2 separate regions of the Homo sapiens genome follow, and region 1 is linked to region 2. The links come from fine-mapping of genetic effects on gene expression. A gene starts in region 2. The other region holds a variant in brackets. All regions are shown on one strand. Distances are between the middles of the regions.

Region 1 (2,900 bases), 35 kb before region 2:
TTTGCTGCTGCTGCTGCAGGCCGTGGAGTCCTCACACATGTTGCTGGTTTGAATTCCACTTCTTGGCCTAAGCAGCTCCTCCTCCCTCCACCTTCCAGCTCCCCTCTCCTGCCCGCTGAGTGACTCCCACTCCCGCAAGCCCCTCCCAACACTCTCACCGGAAGGACAGGCAGTTGTTGATGTTGGCAATAACATTGGCCCTGTAATTCGTCAGCTGCTTGCCTCTCTCCAGAAATTCATTAAAGGCGCGCTGGTAGCTGGCGAAACCAGAAGGGGCACATTCAGGACCAGCCCAAACACTGGGACCACAGCAGCAGCCTCCCTGCCCTCCCTGCCAGCTCCTGGGGTTCACTTTTCTGTTTGGCTGCCCATAGCCAAGGGAGGGGCCGCTAGCCCCTGGGCATCATGGAACTGGCTTCACAAGCTAAGGCTTGGGCTCCTGAAGAGGGTACCAGCCCATCTCTGCTGCTCCCAGGCCCTCTCTAGAGTTGGGAGACCAGGTAGGAGTGAGCGTGTGGTTGGCTGGAGAAGCCCTCAGAGGTCGAGAGGGAGAGAGCAGAGAGAATTCAGGTGGTGGAGACTAGGAGTGTTGTATGAAGGGGTGGCGGGGTCTCAGTCCCTCCTGGGGTATCCTCTTTGAAGCTAGAGGCTGCTCTGCTGAGAGCTTTGCTGATGGGGTGGGCGCAAGAGGCTCCCACGTTGAATCCTGGTGGAGGTCAGACCACCTGAGGCTCTCAGTGCCCTGGCTGAGTGGGAAACAACTCCTGGCTCAGAATGACAGGGACAGGGGTAGAGGGCGGGGATCCAGCTCAGCTCCCCACCTGAGGCACTAGGGAGGGGCCGTGGCTCTGAGAGCGGTGGCTACAGGGACCCCATCCTGGGCACACACCCACCTCCTCAGGAACGCAGGCAGCTCCACCAGCAGCACCCGCTTTATCTGTGAGCCCAAGTCCAGCGTGATGCTCTCGGCCTTGGCCTGGGCCTGGGAGGTGATCTGCAGGGTGGTGGTGGGTGAGCTGAGCAGGGGCTCGCCTGGACAAGGGGGCAGGGGACGGGGAGGAAACAGGCGGGAACAGAGGGGGTGCCCCGAGGTGGGCATGGGTATGCACACAGGACGGAATGTGCGTGGGGCTCCCCATGCACGTGCACGGGCGGTACGTGTGCCCTGGGGCAGATTGCAGTACCTGGATGATGTCGATGGCCAGCTCGCTGTGGCAGTGGCCGTCCAGCCTCTGGGGAGGCACATCCTCAGCCCAGCGCCGTGCCTCTAGCTCCAGAGCTCGGTCCATCAACTCCCTCACATTGGCCTGGAGGAGGAGGGGCAGGTCACTGGGGCACTATCCCTCACCTCGCTCACCTGGAAGACCCGTCAAGCTCCCTGCCCATGTCCTGTCTGTCTCCGAGCCTCTCCTCTGCTGCCTCCCTGCCCCTCCCTGGCCCAGGTGGAGACTCACCGCCTCACTGGACAGGAATGTGGCCTCCAGCAGTCGGATCTGCCTGGGGGGCAGGAGGCTCCCGAGCCCCATACCCTGCAGCTCACCCACCAGCTTGGGGCTGTTGATGATGTCACTGCAGGCAGGGGAGGCTGGCATGAGGACAACTATACCAAATCAGCACCACCACTCAAGCTAGAGCCCAGGCCCTCAGC[C/G]TTGGTCTCTGGCAGGCCCAGACTGCCCAGCACACCCTCCCGCACCCCCACCCGGTCCCCATTTCAGATGATGGGTCCTCCATCTACTTAGTTTGGTTTGGAACAGAAACTCTGAAGTCATCATGCCTCCTCTGACTCTCTCACCACCCCCCCCCCATTAGGTCCTGCTCCAAAATAGCCCCCAAAATCAGCAGCCTCATGCCACTCTGGCGCCCTGGCCGGCTCCCATCAGCTCCCCGCTGGCTCACTGCAAAAGCCTCCTCCCGGCCTCTCTGCTCCTTCCCTCACCTCCAACAATTCCTTCTTCACCCAGCAGCCAGAGCCACCTTTAAGATCTGATCTTCTTCCTGCTCCAAGACTACCTGTCACCCAGATAAAACCCTGCTCCTACTCACAGCAGCCCTGGAATCCAGCCAGCTCCCAGCCCACTGCGCTCCAGCCCTGCAGGTCTTGGGCATCTCACCAGCCCCGGCCACCTCCCAATCCCAGGGGTAGGCCAGAATGGGCAGGAAGGGCTGCCCCAAACTGCTCCACAGACGCATCTTGGCTCACTGTCCTGGCGCCTCTGCAGCGCCCCAGAGCTCCCAGGGGACTGCCCAGCCCTGGCACTTCCTAAGGGCCCTTTGTCTGCCTAGAGGTTTACAAATGACCTTCTCTCTGCCCCTCACCCAATCCAGATGCAGCTGTGTCCCTCCGTTCCCCACATTTCTGGCACACAGGCTTCAACGATGCCCCCCTGGGCACCCTCTCACCAGGGCTCCATGCCCAGCTTGGCTTTAGTTGCCTGTTGCTAACCCCAGGCCAGCAGACCCCGAGGTCACTGGGACAGAAAGACTGGCAGGCAGGGGTGCAGGTGCCCGGCATTTCCTGGTGAGTCAGGACGAGCAAGCGGGAACTGGCTCTGGGCTGGGTTATCTCTCCCGTGGCCCCTGCCCTGTGCCAGTTCCCCTATGCCCTGCTGACTCCTCTCCCACCCTCTCCACTGGACCCTTTCTCTATCCTTCTGCCAGAGGCTGACCCTTCAACACGAACTGAGCCCACAGGCCACCCAAGGCCCCCGAGACGGCAGACACTGCCCACACTGTCTATACCTCCAGGCTTCCTTCCTAAAGTTTCACACTAGGATCTGGGGCCAGCAGTGGCCAAGCCCCACAATAACAGCCCCTGGACTCCCCCGCCCTGGGCCTTTCCACACTGCAGTAAGCCTCTCTCCATGCAGACCGTGCGAATGACGGGCACGCCCAGGGATCTA
Region 2 (2,873 bases):
GTCCTCCCACCTAAGCGTCCCAAGTAGCTGGGACTACAGGTGCGCAACACCATGCCTGGCTAATTTTTATATTTTTTGTAGAGACAGGGGTCTCATTATGTGTGCCCAGGCTGGTCTCAAACTTCTGGCCTCAAATAATCCTCCTGCCTCAGCCTCCCAAAGTGCTGGGATTACAGGAGTGAGCCACCATGCCCGGCCCTATAAACCTCCTTTGAAAGCTTTCCTTGCAAGCTTTCCTTTTCCTTCCAGCCCCTGCAAATAAGGAAAATGACAAGGATGTTTGTTCTCACCATTCTTACTCCTCAACATTTGGCTGGAAGAACTAGTTAAGGCAATAAGGAAAGAAAAATAAATAAGAGATGTAAACACTGGGAAGGAGCAGATTAAACTGTCATTATTCATAGGTGATATGATTGTTGGCTTAGAAAATCTGAGGCTGAAAATTATTGGAGCTAATAAAAGGGTTTAGTAAATTTTGTGCATTGATTATGTAAATACAAGCAACACCTTTCCTATACCCTAGCAAAGCCTATTAGAAAGAGACACTTAAAAGACTTCCCTTCACAGTAGCAACAAAGCATAAGCCCCCTGAGCCGCTGCTGCCCTCGGAAGAAGCACAGCTCCATCCTTAGCTTGGCATTCAAGGCCTCTCCTAATGACCCCTCTGGCTTCAGTCCCAACTCATTCCCTCACTCTGATCACTCAGAAGTACCCACCTCTCCTCCACACCTTTGCACAGGCCATCCTCTCTGCCTACAATGACCTCAGCCCCTCCTTCTTCAGTTGTCAACTCATTGAAGGCTCAGCAGAAATGGCTCCTCCCCCAAGAAGCCTTCCCGGACCAGCTGAGCCCATACCATGTTCGGCACCTCCTGCTGTGGGCCTGATCCCAGCCCTGGGCACACCTGCCATGACGGAGGGACAGTTACAGAGCCTGGAGACCAGGAGACCCGCAAGGCAGGGAGTGAGCCTGACTCAGCCCCCAGCCATGGCTAGTACTCGGCACTTTCCCGGGGAAACCAGGAAAGTGAATCTGATGCCTGAGCTTGAGCGCGCGGGCATATACACACTTTTCTGGGCGTCGGTTTTGCACATCTGTGTGTTGGCCTGAGAGTGTCTCCCTGTATGTGCATGACTCTGCCCTGGAGTGTCCCCAGAGGGTCTGCCAGTGCTTCTGAGTCTGTGTCTGTGCCTGCATGCCCATCTTGGTGTCTTCTGTGTCTGTCTATCTGTGCTTTCTACCTGAGTGTGTCTGCCTGTGTATCGGGTGTGTGTGTGTCCACTGTGATTTGCGCTGGCCCTCTGGCCTGGTCGGCCTGGGCTCTGAGTGAGGCCCTTGGCCTGGAAGGCCACACGCAGAGCCGGAATGGTCCTCAAGCCCGCCCACAGCACCCCATGCCCTCCTGCTCCACCTGCCCAGAACATACCTGCTGAGCACGCAGCCTTGGCCCAGGAAGAACACAGCCCCCTGAGAAGCTGGCCCGTGGGGCCCTCAGAGCCGGGCCCTGGCTATGGGGCCTCTAGAGCAGCCTGAGCGAGTGACCAACAGCTGGGACTTCCCAGCCATGGTCAGCGCCTGCCAGGCCCACCCGGCCCCACCCACAGCCCTACCCTCCACCAGGACCCCATACTTTCACTTTCAGAGAAGTTCCCACTTCCTTTTCGTTCCGGAGGCAGTCACTCCAGCTTTCCATTCCAGACAGCTCAGGGCTCAGTCCAAGGGTCAGAGAACAAGGGAGGGGAAGGCTGCGGAGCTCGGCACTCAGGGTCTCGAGGCAGCAGGGGGTGGACGCTGCCTGCCACCCAAAACACCACCAACCTCTCCTTTGCTCAGAGGCCAGCGGAAGCAGGCGCTGGCCTCGGGGGACACTCAGCCCACAGTGCCGGAGCCCAGAAGGACCCCTCCCTCCAGGACAGAGGCTCTAGCACTGGGCCAGTCCATCGAGTTCATCCCGAGACCCCTGCACCCTGCCTGTCAGGGAAGCTCACGGTGACAGCAAAGGCAGCAGTTGAGAGCCACATGCCATTCCTGGGGGCTTCAGGAGCTAGAGAAAGGGATGGGGCCCTAGGGACAGACAGGACACACTCAGAAGTGAGAAGGGACGGCATCCTGGGCAGGGGCAAAGATGTGGAGGCGGGGCCCCACTCCCCACACCAGGGGGTCAGGCGGGCAACGTGCCGCAGGGAGGGCCACTGACACTTCCCAGAAGAGGCAGCCTCACCCCTGCATAGGGGGATTCCGCAGCGAGCGTCTTAGGAAACAACTCAGGGAAAATCCAAGGAGAACGGATCCAGGCCTGTCCCAACCTGGGCTGGGGCCACCAGGGTGTGTGATGGGGCTGCTGCAGGGTGCTGAGGTGGGCAGAAATAGCCTCCTGCACCAGCATCCTCTGGCTGAGGGCAGAGGTGGCCCCGTGCAGCAGCATCCTAGGACTGAGGGCAGGGAAGGCCCCATGCACCCAGTGTCCTAGGGCTGAGGGCAGAGACAGGCCGGTGCACCAGCATCCTAGGACTGAGGGCAGGGACGGCCCCATGCACCCACTGTCCTAGGGCTGAGGGCAGAGACAGGCCAGTGCACCAGCATCCTAGGGCTGAGGGCAGGGACGGCCCCATGCATCCAGTGTCCTAGGGCTGCCACGACAGGACCAGGGACTGAGCCTCAACAACAGACGTTTATTCTCTCCCAGTTCTGGAAGCCAGAGGCCCACAGTCAAGGCATGTGTGGGGCTGGTTTCTCCTGGGGCTGTTTTCTGGGTCTGTGGGTAGCGCCCCCCCTTCTTCCTGGGTCAACACAGGGCCTTCCCACTTCGTGTCTGTGTCCATATTTCCTCTTCATATGGGTTGGGGTCCACCCGAATGACTTAATTTTAACT

Which allele goes with the higher level. Alleles are on the strand shown, and positions count from the first base shown. SD is a standard deviation of normalised expression in the study named.
For the expression in testis of the gene that starts at base 1,543 in region 2, C is the high allele of the variant in region 1 and G is the other (small effect, 0.31 SD a copy in GTEx).

Evidence for each region. PIP is the estimated chance that this variant, and not a neighbour inherited with it, causes the effect.
Region 1: its variant is the best candidate, but not a certain one, in a credible set for the expression of EXOC3L4 in testis (GTEx, PIP 0.71).

What each region holds. Positions count from the first base shown.
Region 1 is chr14:103,128,409-103,131,308 of GRCh38, reverse strand. TNFAIP2 (TNF alpha induced protein 2) reads right to left here. Exons shown (of 12, transcript NM_006291.4): 4 at 1,455-1,569; 5 at 1,185-1,307; 6 at 894-994; 7 at 159-257. Among named protein-coding and RNA genes, the nearest start is that of TNFAIP2, 6.4 kb to the right of the region's middle. RefSeq lists an enhancer at 2,334-2,900. The variant C/G (reference allele first, on the strand shown) is at 1,649.
Region 2 is chr14:103,093,395-103,096,267 of GRCh38, reverse strand. EXOC3L4 (exocyst complex component 3 like 4) reads right to left here and starts at 1,543. Exons shown (of 12, transcript NM_001077594.2): 1 at 1,428-1,543. RefSeq lists enhancers at 965-1,534, 2,105-2,674.